Linked DNA regions of Homo sapiens: region 1 is linked to region 2. The links come from fine-mapping of genetic effects on gene expression. A gene starts in region 2. The other region holds a variant in brackets. All regions are shown on one strand. Distances are from middle to middle.

What was found. PIP is the estimated chance that this variant, and not a neighbour inherited with it, causes the effect.
Region 1: its variant is the best candidate, but not a certain one, in a credible set for the expression of IL21R-AS1 in lung (GTEx, PIP 0.79).

The regions. Positions count from the first base shown.
Region 1 is chr16:27,481,835-27,485,834 of GRCh38, forward strand. GTF3C1 (general transcription factor IIIC subunit 1) reads right to left here. Exons shown (of 37, transcript NM_001520.4): 25 at 2,377-2,519; 26 at 1,210-1,291. Among named protein-coding and RNA genes, the nearest start is that of IL21R-AS1, 30 kb to the left of the region's middle. The variant C/T (reference allele first, on the strand shown) is at 1,520.
Region 2 is chr16:27,451,177-27,455,696 of GRCh38, forward strand. It overlaps IL21R-AS1 (IL21R antisense RNA 1), which reads right to left and starts at 2,217. Exons shown (of 3, transcript NR_037158.1): 1 at 1,921-2,217; 2 at 1,567-1,746. It overlaps IL21R (interleukin 21 receptor), which reads left to right. Exons shown (of 9, transcript NM_181078.3): 9 at 1-866. RefSeq lists an enhancer at 1,625-1,724.

The DNA.
Region 1 (4,000 bases), 30 kb after region 2:
TGGTTTCCAGTCTCGCCCAGTGCTGACACCTTTACTAAGCCCACTGGCAGACACTGTGGGTGTCTGTGGGTCACCTATTCCATTTTTCCCCACACTTTCTGATTAGCCAGTCTCAATTTGCTGTGGGGAGGGAGGATGCCCAGTCTCCTAGGATACACCAGGACAGTTTAAGCCACTCATGGCAGCCTGAGTCCCCTGTGCTATGTCCCACTGTTTCCCAGCCACGTGGCCCAGGTCTGCCAGGGGCTCCTGGGAAAGGCTGTCCCCTGATACAAGGGCCATGTGGGTCTATTGCAGCCCCTCTCCCCACTGCTTCCTGCTCTGGAATTCTGTTGTGAGGACTTGAGCTCTCATTGTCAACATTTGCAACCAGGGGGTGACTGGCATAGGATGGAAAGCTGACCACTGCTCCTGGAGGGGAGTGTGGCGGCAGGAACCTGGGAGCCTGATGACATCTCTGCTCCCCTGCACCAGACCAGGACTGCCTACCCTCAACTGCTTGGCATTTGGGAAAAAGGAAGCTGTATACTCTCATTAGGTTAGGTTTTTCTGTCACTTCCATCCAAAAGCATTGCTGAGCCTCCTCCCTGACCTCTGTGGGCCTGTGCCTTCCTCTTCCGGGAGCTGACTACACTGTCCTGCAATGGCCATGTACTTCTCTGTCTGTCCCACTCGCCTGTGGCCTCCTTGGCGGAAAAGGTAGCCTCTCCTTGTCCACTGGCCTCACTTGGCACAAGTCCTGCCACACACACTGTAGTGTCCAGGGTTAGCACAGAAATGAAAGATGAGCAGCCTCTGAGGCGAAGGGCAGGAGTCTGGGTCAGCAGACAGCTTCCCTCCTTGTCAGCCACCGCCTTGGCCCCTCTGGACAGAAAACTCGGAAAGAAAACCCACACCCAGTCTGCGAGCTTTCTAGGAAGCCTGTAATTTCTGAAGAAATGTTCTATTTTCTTAACAAAACAGGCCCAAGGCACAGCAGCCCTTCAAAGTGGCCTGTCAGATTCTAATCATCTTTAAAAACAGGTGTTTGAAGCCAGATCAAGTGAAGGCCAACACCAGAGAGCTGACTCGGTGATTTCTCAAGTGAGCAGGAAACAAAGTCCACGTTCCTAAGGCTGGCAGGGGCACTGTGGGATGAGAGGAGCTGACTGAAGTCTAGCTGCCCCAATCTCCCAAGCATACCAAGCCCTACACTCACACAGGACCTACCTTTGGGTCATCATAGTCACCTCTTCGATTCATGAAATCTCCAACAAGTGCTTTATCCTGGTACACCTCGGCCAGGCACACTCTGCAGGAAGAGGAGACAAAGCTGAAGTCTGGGAATTGCAATGATGCCCATGTTCAGAACCTTCAGAGAGCTCCATTCTCATGTTTCTGGCCTTGGCCGACCTTGAAGCATGAGTTACTTATATGCCTGTTGCACAACTGCAGCTTTTACGAATGAAGGATTTGGGGTCAGCCAAGCCTGACCTCAGTCAGGTCTGTTCACACTTTACACCTTGGCTTCTCTGAACTT[C/T]CGTCCTTCATAGGTAACCGAGAACACTGAGTCCCAAACTGTCTCTCACAGGGGTTTGTCCAGGACCATATGGGCTGACCTATGTGAAAGTGCATCACACATTTAAAAACATCAAACAGGCTTTGGGGTTTATTATTCTTAAGCTCTCTAATCTACTGCAAAGCAGGTGTGTCCACTCCACTAACCTTCACATCTCCATGATATAAGGAGAGCCTGACTTGCCCAAAAGAAAATGAAGGGGAAGGCGACCAGCATTTGCTGGGCTCCCGTCCACCAGGCACTGCTGCCTTCATAAAGAGCTTGCCAGGTACAGACTCATTCCGCTTTACAGCCTGGTAAGGCAAGGGGACTCCCTGAGGTCACACACACAAGGGCAGGGCAGGAAGACAGTTCTCAGCTCTGCTAAGAACATGGCAGAGGGCATCCTGTCCAATGATCCCAGGTCCTGCCTAGCTTGCTGCTGGAGGGAGCCACCAATCAGAGCTCTCAGGAACTGCTCTGAGGGCCAAAAACAGCAGGAAAAGCCAGCCTCTGCCTCTGCCTCCACCACCAGCTAGGCACGTGGTACTTAGCGAGTCAGCCTATCTAGTCTCCGCTTCTTCATCCAAAAAAAGGATACCACCACCTACTTCTCATGGCCGCTATAAGGTCTAAGCAATACCTTGCATGGGAAAGCACCCAGAATCATGCTTGGCCCTCACCCTCAAAAAACCAAGGTCCATCTCCCCAGCAGACTCCAACACTTGGCCAGCCCATCAGACACCTCAGTGTGCTCCAGCCACACTTCCCACCAGACTCTTAAGCAAACGGGATAACGTAACCGTGTCCCGGAGTGACGGGGCTTCAATGAGGCTTACTTATAGTTGAGATAGGCCTGTGGGTTTTTGACTATGTAGCGAGCTCTTCGTCCAACGGAATGAGATGTTTTATCCAAAGACTCTTCAAACGTGGCATGCAAAATGTCCCGTACCACCTGCCAGGTGACAAATGGGCCCTTCACCTGGATCAAACACAGAGCCAAGACAAAAAGTCAGTATCCTCAGAGACGACATCATGGGGAATTACCATAAAAAAGTGGACAAAATGTGTTTTGTGCAGCCTCCTTCCTCAGAGAATCCCCACAACTGTCACCTCACAATATTTACTGGGCCCACCATGTGCCAGACACTGAGGGAGATTCTGGGCAGACAAGTATAGGACGAGGCCTCAGTGACCAGCGGGAAAGAGTGTATTTTAGCAAGCGCCATGTGTGACAAAGGTGCCCAACGGGGCGGGGGGGAACTGCCTGAAAGGGCGCTGTATTAGAGGGAATCATGGGGATGCAAAGTGTGTTTAGTTAGAGGTCTTAGTGTCCTAATTATGCATCATGTGTGCTCAGAAACGTTCTGTATGTTGTGCTTGTATGTTATGTTAGTAGAAGCAGAATGTACAAAATTAGCAGACCCAGGAGAACATCTTGGTCAATAACACAGGAAGGCAAGGCCGACATGAGAAAGCCGCTTGACGAGTTATTTTCTTACATCCCCAAGGATGAGGTGACCCAAAAAGTCTGTAAGTTCTGGTAAGCGGCGAGAGTCCATCAACACTGACCTATGCAGGACCCTCCTGCCTCCTCCAGCTGCACCAGAGCTGGAGCAGATGGAGGGACGCCCCACTTACCCATCAGCTCTGCAATGACGAAGCCATTGCAGATGCAGGGAACAGAAATTAGGGATGGCAACATGTCACCTTTCAGGTTCTTCCTTGGAAAAGAGGTTGGGATGGAATTCAGGAGAGGACTGAGGGATGAGAGAACAGGGGACAAGCGGTCAAGACAAGGGATCTAATAGTTGGCAGGCAAGGAGCATCTGGGCACAAAGCCCCAGCTGGGTTTCTCCTGCCTGGCCTGGCTGAGACCCGGAGGCACACCCGGGCTCCTCCAAAGCTGCCTTGTGGCACTACTGCCTGGAAGGGGCCCTGGACTGGACTGGCAGAGCTTTTTCCTGGAAGGCAAATAAGAGGTCTCGCTGCCTTGTGGACCAGCCACGCCGGTGAGCCAAGAGGTACCAGAGGTGACAGAAACAGCATGAGAAGTATCCGGCCAAGAACAGAGAATGAGCAGGGTAATTACGCCCAATTGGCAGATCATTCCGGACATGATGGGCAGTTACAGGAAGGTAAATTGGAGCTTTTCAGGCAATGAAGGTGGGAGGAAGGAGCAGGCCAGGGTTAGACTACTGGTGAGGAGAGAGAAAGAACAGCTCTGAACTAGTTTGCCTGCAGCTAGGCAAACATTTATATGTATGCAGCTGAAAGCTAAAAAGAAATGTAGAAAAACAGAATGGTATTAATTTGTAGGATTAGCTGGTCATGGCAGGGTGCGCCTGTAGTCCCAGGACTATGAGAGGCTGAGGTGGGATCACTTGAGGCCAGGTTGAGGATGCAGTGAGCTGTGATCGTGCCACTGCACTCCAGACTGGGTGAAAGAGCAAGGCTCCATCT
Region 2 (4,520 bases):
TGGTTTTCACACCTTCTTGGGGGCAACAGGTTCCAGGAGCCACCTGTGGGTGCCACCTGAGCCACAGGCTCCCAGGAAAGCAGCACAGCTCTCCTGCACCCAGAGCTTGCTGGGTGGCGGAGGGGAACACAGATGGTTGGGGAAGGCCTGAGGCCAGATTGGGGGACTCTGGACTGGGGCAGATGAGGCTCCTCAGAATCCCACCTTTGAAGGGAACTCAGCTTATAAACACAGAGGAGCAAAGTTGGAGGGCCGGGCGTAGTGGCTCACACCTGTGATCTCAGCACTTTGGGAGGCCAAGGAAGGTGGATCACTTGAGGCCAGGAGTTCGAGACCAGCCTGGGCAACATAGCAAGGCCCCATCTCTACAAAAATTATTATTTTTTAAAAAAATTAGCCAGGTGTGGTGGTGCTTGCCTATAGTCCCAGCTACTCGGGAGGCTAAGGTGGGAGGATCGCTGGAGCCCAGGAATTTGAGGCTGCAGTGAGCTGTGATTACACCGTTGCACTCCAGCCTGGGTCACAGATCAAGACCCTGTCTCTTAAAAATAAAAGTTGGAGACAAGAGCTGGCTCACCTGAAAGGAGGGATTAGTAGGTAGGAGGGTGGATGGAGGATGGATGGATGTGTGGGTGGATAGGAAGATGGTATTAAGTTGGTGCAAAAGTCTTTGATATTACTCTTAATGGCTTTAATAAAAAGCTTGAAGGAAGAATGATTGGTTGGATAGACAGAGATAAATGCATACTGGAAACAAAGATAAAGATAAAACACAAGTTATACCAGGCCAGCAACTCTATTTTGTTCACTGCCTTTAGTCCCAGCCTGGCACATAGTAGGCACTCAATAAAGCCTGATTTGTAGCATTTGCTTATTTCCATGGTGTAATTTCATGCTCCTGATTTGAGTCTAAACACAGAGTTGGGAAGAGATATGCACAATCTGCCCTCCTGGCTGGTATGAGTGAGTCCCAGCTCACCGATGGTAGCCCAGAGAGAACATCAAGAGGAGTAGGGGGCTTCAGGGAGGAGGTGGTGTTGGTTGGACTTCGAAAAATGAATAGGAGGCTGGGAGTGGTGGCTCATGACTGTAATCCTAGCACTTTGGGAGGCCGAGGCGGGCAGATCATTAGAGGTCAGGAGTTTGAGACCAGCCTGGGCAACGTGGTGAAACCCAGTCTCTACTAAAAATACAAAAATTAGCTGGGTGCGGTGGCGGGTGCCTGTAACCCCAGCTACTCAGGAGGCTGAGGCAGGAGAATCTGAGAGATGGAGGTTGCAGCGAGCAGAGATCACACCACTGCACTCCAGCCTGGGTGACAGAGCGAGACTACGTCTCATAAAAAAAAAAAAAAAGGAAAAATGAATAGGCGTTGTTACATGTACCAGCTATTTGGGGCAGAGGGAAGAGCTTGGACAAAGGCCTGGAGGTACGACCAAGGGTCAGGAGCAAGTGGGACAGGCGCTCCTCGCCCTCCAAAGACCAGGCCAGAATTGCTGACAAGACTCACTGAAGAGGAAGGGGGACCGATAGCAACGTCACTTTCCCAGCTGCCGCATTCCTCACCTTGCCGTCTGCAAGCTCTGAGGGGCAGAGTCATCCGTCTGACAGATGAAATGAAGGCACAGCTCAGGCTGGTGACCTGCCTGAGGTCACACACTGAATGAGTGGTCGGAGCTGGAACCAGAACTCTGGGCTTCTGATGCCACTTTCAGCTCTTTTTCACCTTGCTCTGCTGGAACGTACCTAGATCAAGAGGTGAGGAAGGTTTAGCAGACGCCGTGGGTGCCTGCTGCATCTGCCTGTGCAGCAGTTTGGAGACGTGGCTGACCCCAGCTCTGGGAGTGGCTATGTGAACCAGGCCTGCCCAGTAGGACATTTCTTCCCCCTGGCAACAGTACAGTTTAGGGACAGACATACCCTAGCTGGTCCATGCTCTCTTTCTGCTGGGATTACTAAGCTGTAAGGAGGGTACTGGGAGGGGCAGCAAGAAACACACAAGAAAGCAGAGCTGAGAGATGGTAATAGCTCTTGAGATCCCGGATCCAGCCATGCCTGAAACCACGTTTCTCCTGGACCGTTTAGATACATGAGTATGGAAGTCATTATGCTGTTCACCATATGCTGGGCACATGGCAGGATTGTACATCCTGACCCTCTGTAGCCAGATGGGGCCATGTGACTGGCTGGGACTGGGCAGTTGTGAGCAGAAGTGATAAGTCTCACTTCTGGGCAGAGCATTTTTCAGATGGCTACCACACCCCCTGGGGTGTTTTTCCTCTGTCACAGAGACAGATGATGATGGTGACTGCTCCATCTGCCTGGGCACCTGGGTCCTTGAGCAAGGAGATACGGACTGAAGTTTCAGTTCACTTGTGATAGACGTGTATCGTGAGCAAGGAATCAATCCTTTGTTGTTCTAAGCTGCTGAGATGGGGCTGTTTGTTACCACAGCATAACCCTGCCTACCCTAGCTGAATCAATGAGCTGATAAATTTCCTTTTTTGCTTAAGCTGGTTTGAGGTGGGTTTCTGTCCCTTGCAGCAGAAAGTGTTCTAGCATTATTCTGATATTATCCCCACAGTAAGGACTCTCCTTCTATCCTAAGGAAGGACCTTGTATTAGTCCTTGTGTCACTATAAAGAAATACCAGGCTAGGCTGGGATCACGCCTATAATCCCAGCACTTTGGGAGGCCGAGGCAGGCGGATCCCTTGAGGCTAGGAGTTCAAGACCAGCCTGGCCAACATGGCAAAACCCTGTCTCTACTATAAATACAAAAATGAGTCTGGCATGGTGGCACATGCCTGTAATCCCAGCTACTCAGGAGGCTGAGACACGAGGATCACTTGAATCCGGGAGGCAGAGGTTGCAGTGAGCTGAGATGGCGCCACTGCACTCCACGCTGAGCGACAGAAAGATCCTGTCTCAAAAAATAAAAAAGAGAAATACCAGGGTCTAGGTAATTTACAAAGAGGCTTAATTGGCTCTCAGTTCTGCAGGTTGTGCAGGAAGCATGGCACCAGCATTTATTCTGGGTGAGGCCTCAGGAAGCTTCCAATCACAGCAGAAGGCTAAGGGGGAGCCTGCGTGTCACCTGGCAAGAGTAGGAGGAAGAGAGCAAAGTGGGAGGTCCCAGACTCTTTTAAACAACCAGATTGGCTGGGCACGGTGGCTGACGCCTGTAATCCCAGCACTTTGGGAGGCCGAGGTGGGTGGATCACCTGAGGTCAGGAGATCGAGACCAGCCTGAGCAATATGGTGAAACCCCATCTCTGCTAAAAAAAAAAAATACAAAAATCAGCTGGGCTTGGTGGCTTGTGCCTGTAGTCCCAGCTGCTTGGGAGGCTGAGACAGGACAACTGCTTGAACCCAGGAGGCAGAGGTTGCAGAGAGCCGAGATCACACCACTGTACTCCAGCCTGGGCAACAGAGCCATACTCTGTCTCAAACAAAACAAAACAAAACAAAAACAAACAAACAAACCCACCAGATCTCCCATGAAGTGACTGAGCGAGAACCCACTCATCACCAAGGGGATAGTGCTAAGCTGTTCAGGAGGGTCTGCCCCCATGAATCACCTCCCCGCAGGTCTCACCTCCAACGTTGAGAATCACAGTTCAACATGGGATTTGGAGGGGACAAAGAGCCAAACCATATCACCCCATTCAAAGGGCCCAGAAGACCAGGCTCCAAGGGCAAGTCATTTGCTGTCGCTGCGCCTCAGTTTTCTCTTTTATAAAGTGGAGGTTAGGAATCAGCCTCTTGGCTTGCTCCAGGAATGAAAACAGAGGGTGGAGCAAGCCCTTATTAGATGTCAGTTGTCTTAGTGTTTTTGTTTGTTTTTTGTTTTTGTTGTTTGGTTTTTAGACAGAGTCTGACACTGTCACCCAGGCTGGAGTACAATAGCGTGATCTCTGCTCATTGAAACCTCCGCCTCCCAGGTTCAAGCAATTCTCCTGCTTCAGCCTCCTGAGTAGCTGGGATTATAGGCACGTGCCACCACACTTGGCTAATTTTTGTATTTTTAGTAGAGACGGGGTTTCACCATGTTGGCAAGGCTGGTCTCGTACTCCTGACCTGAAGTGATCTGCCCGCCTCAGCCTCCCAAAGTGCTGGGATTGCAGGCGTGAGCCACCACGCCCGGCCAGAGGTGCGTTGTCTTTCTATCATCACCTTGAGCTAGGCTCCAGGTCAGAGGAGAAGAGGGCTGTGGCCCCAGCCCTTCCCAATCTCCTTCCCAGAGAGTTCATAAATGCTTCCCTCCAGATGCCTTGAAGCTTGCACTGCTTTCTGCTGGGATTCAACGAACACATAACCCCAGCTCTCCAACCATCAACAGTTCCTGCGAGATCTCAGCCTGGGATGCTGTCTGGGGGTCCCAGATGCTCTAACAAGGGAAGGAGACAGAGGGAAGTGAAGGCCCAGAAAAAGGCAGTGATTTGCCTGGAGTCCATCATGCTCTGCCCCATTCCTGAGCTCCTTTTGGTCCCCCCGCTGGAGGTGAAAGCCCCTTCCTCC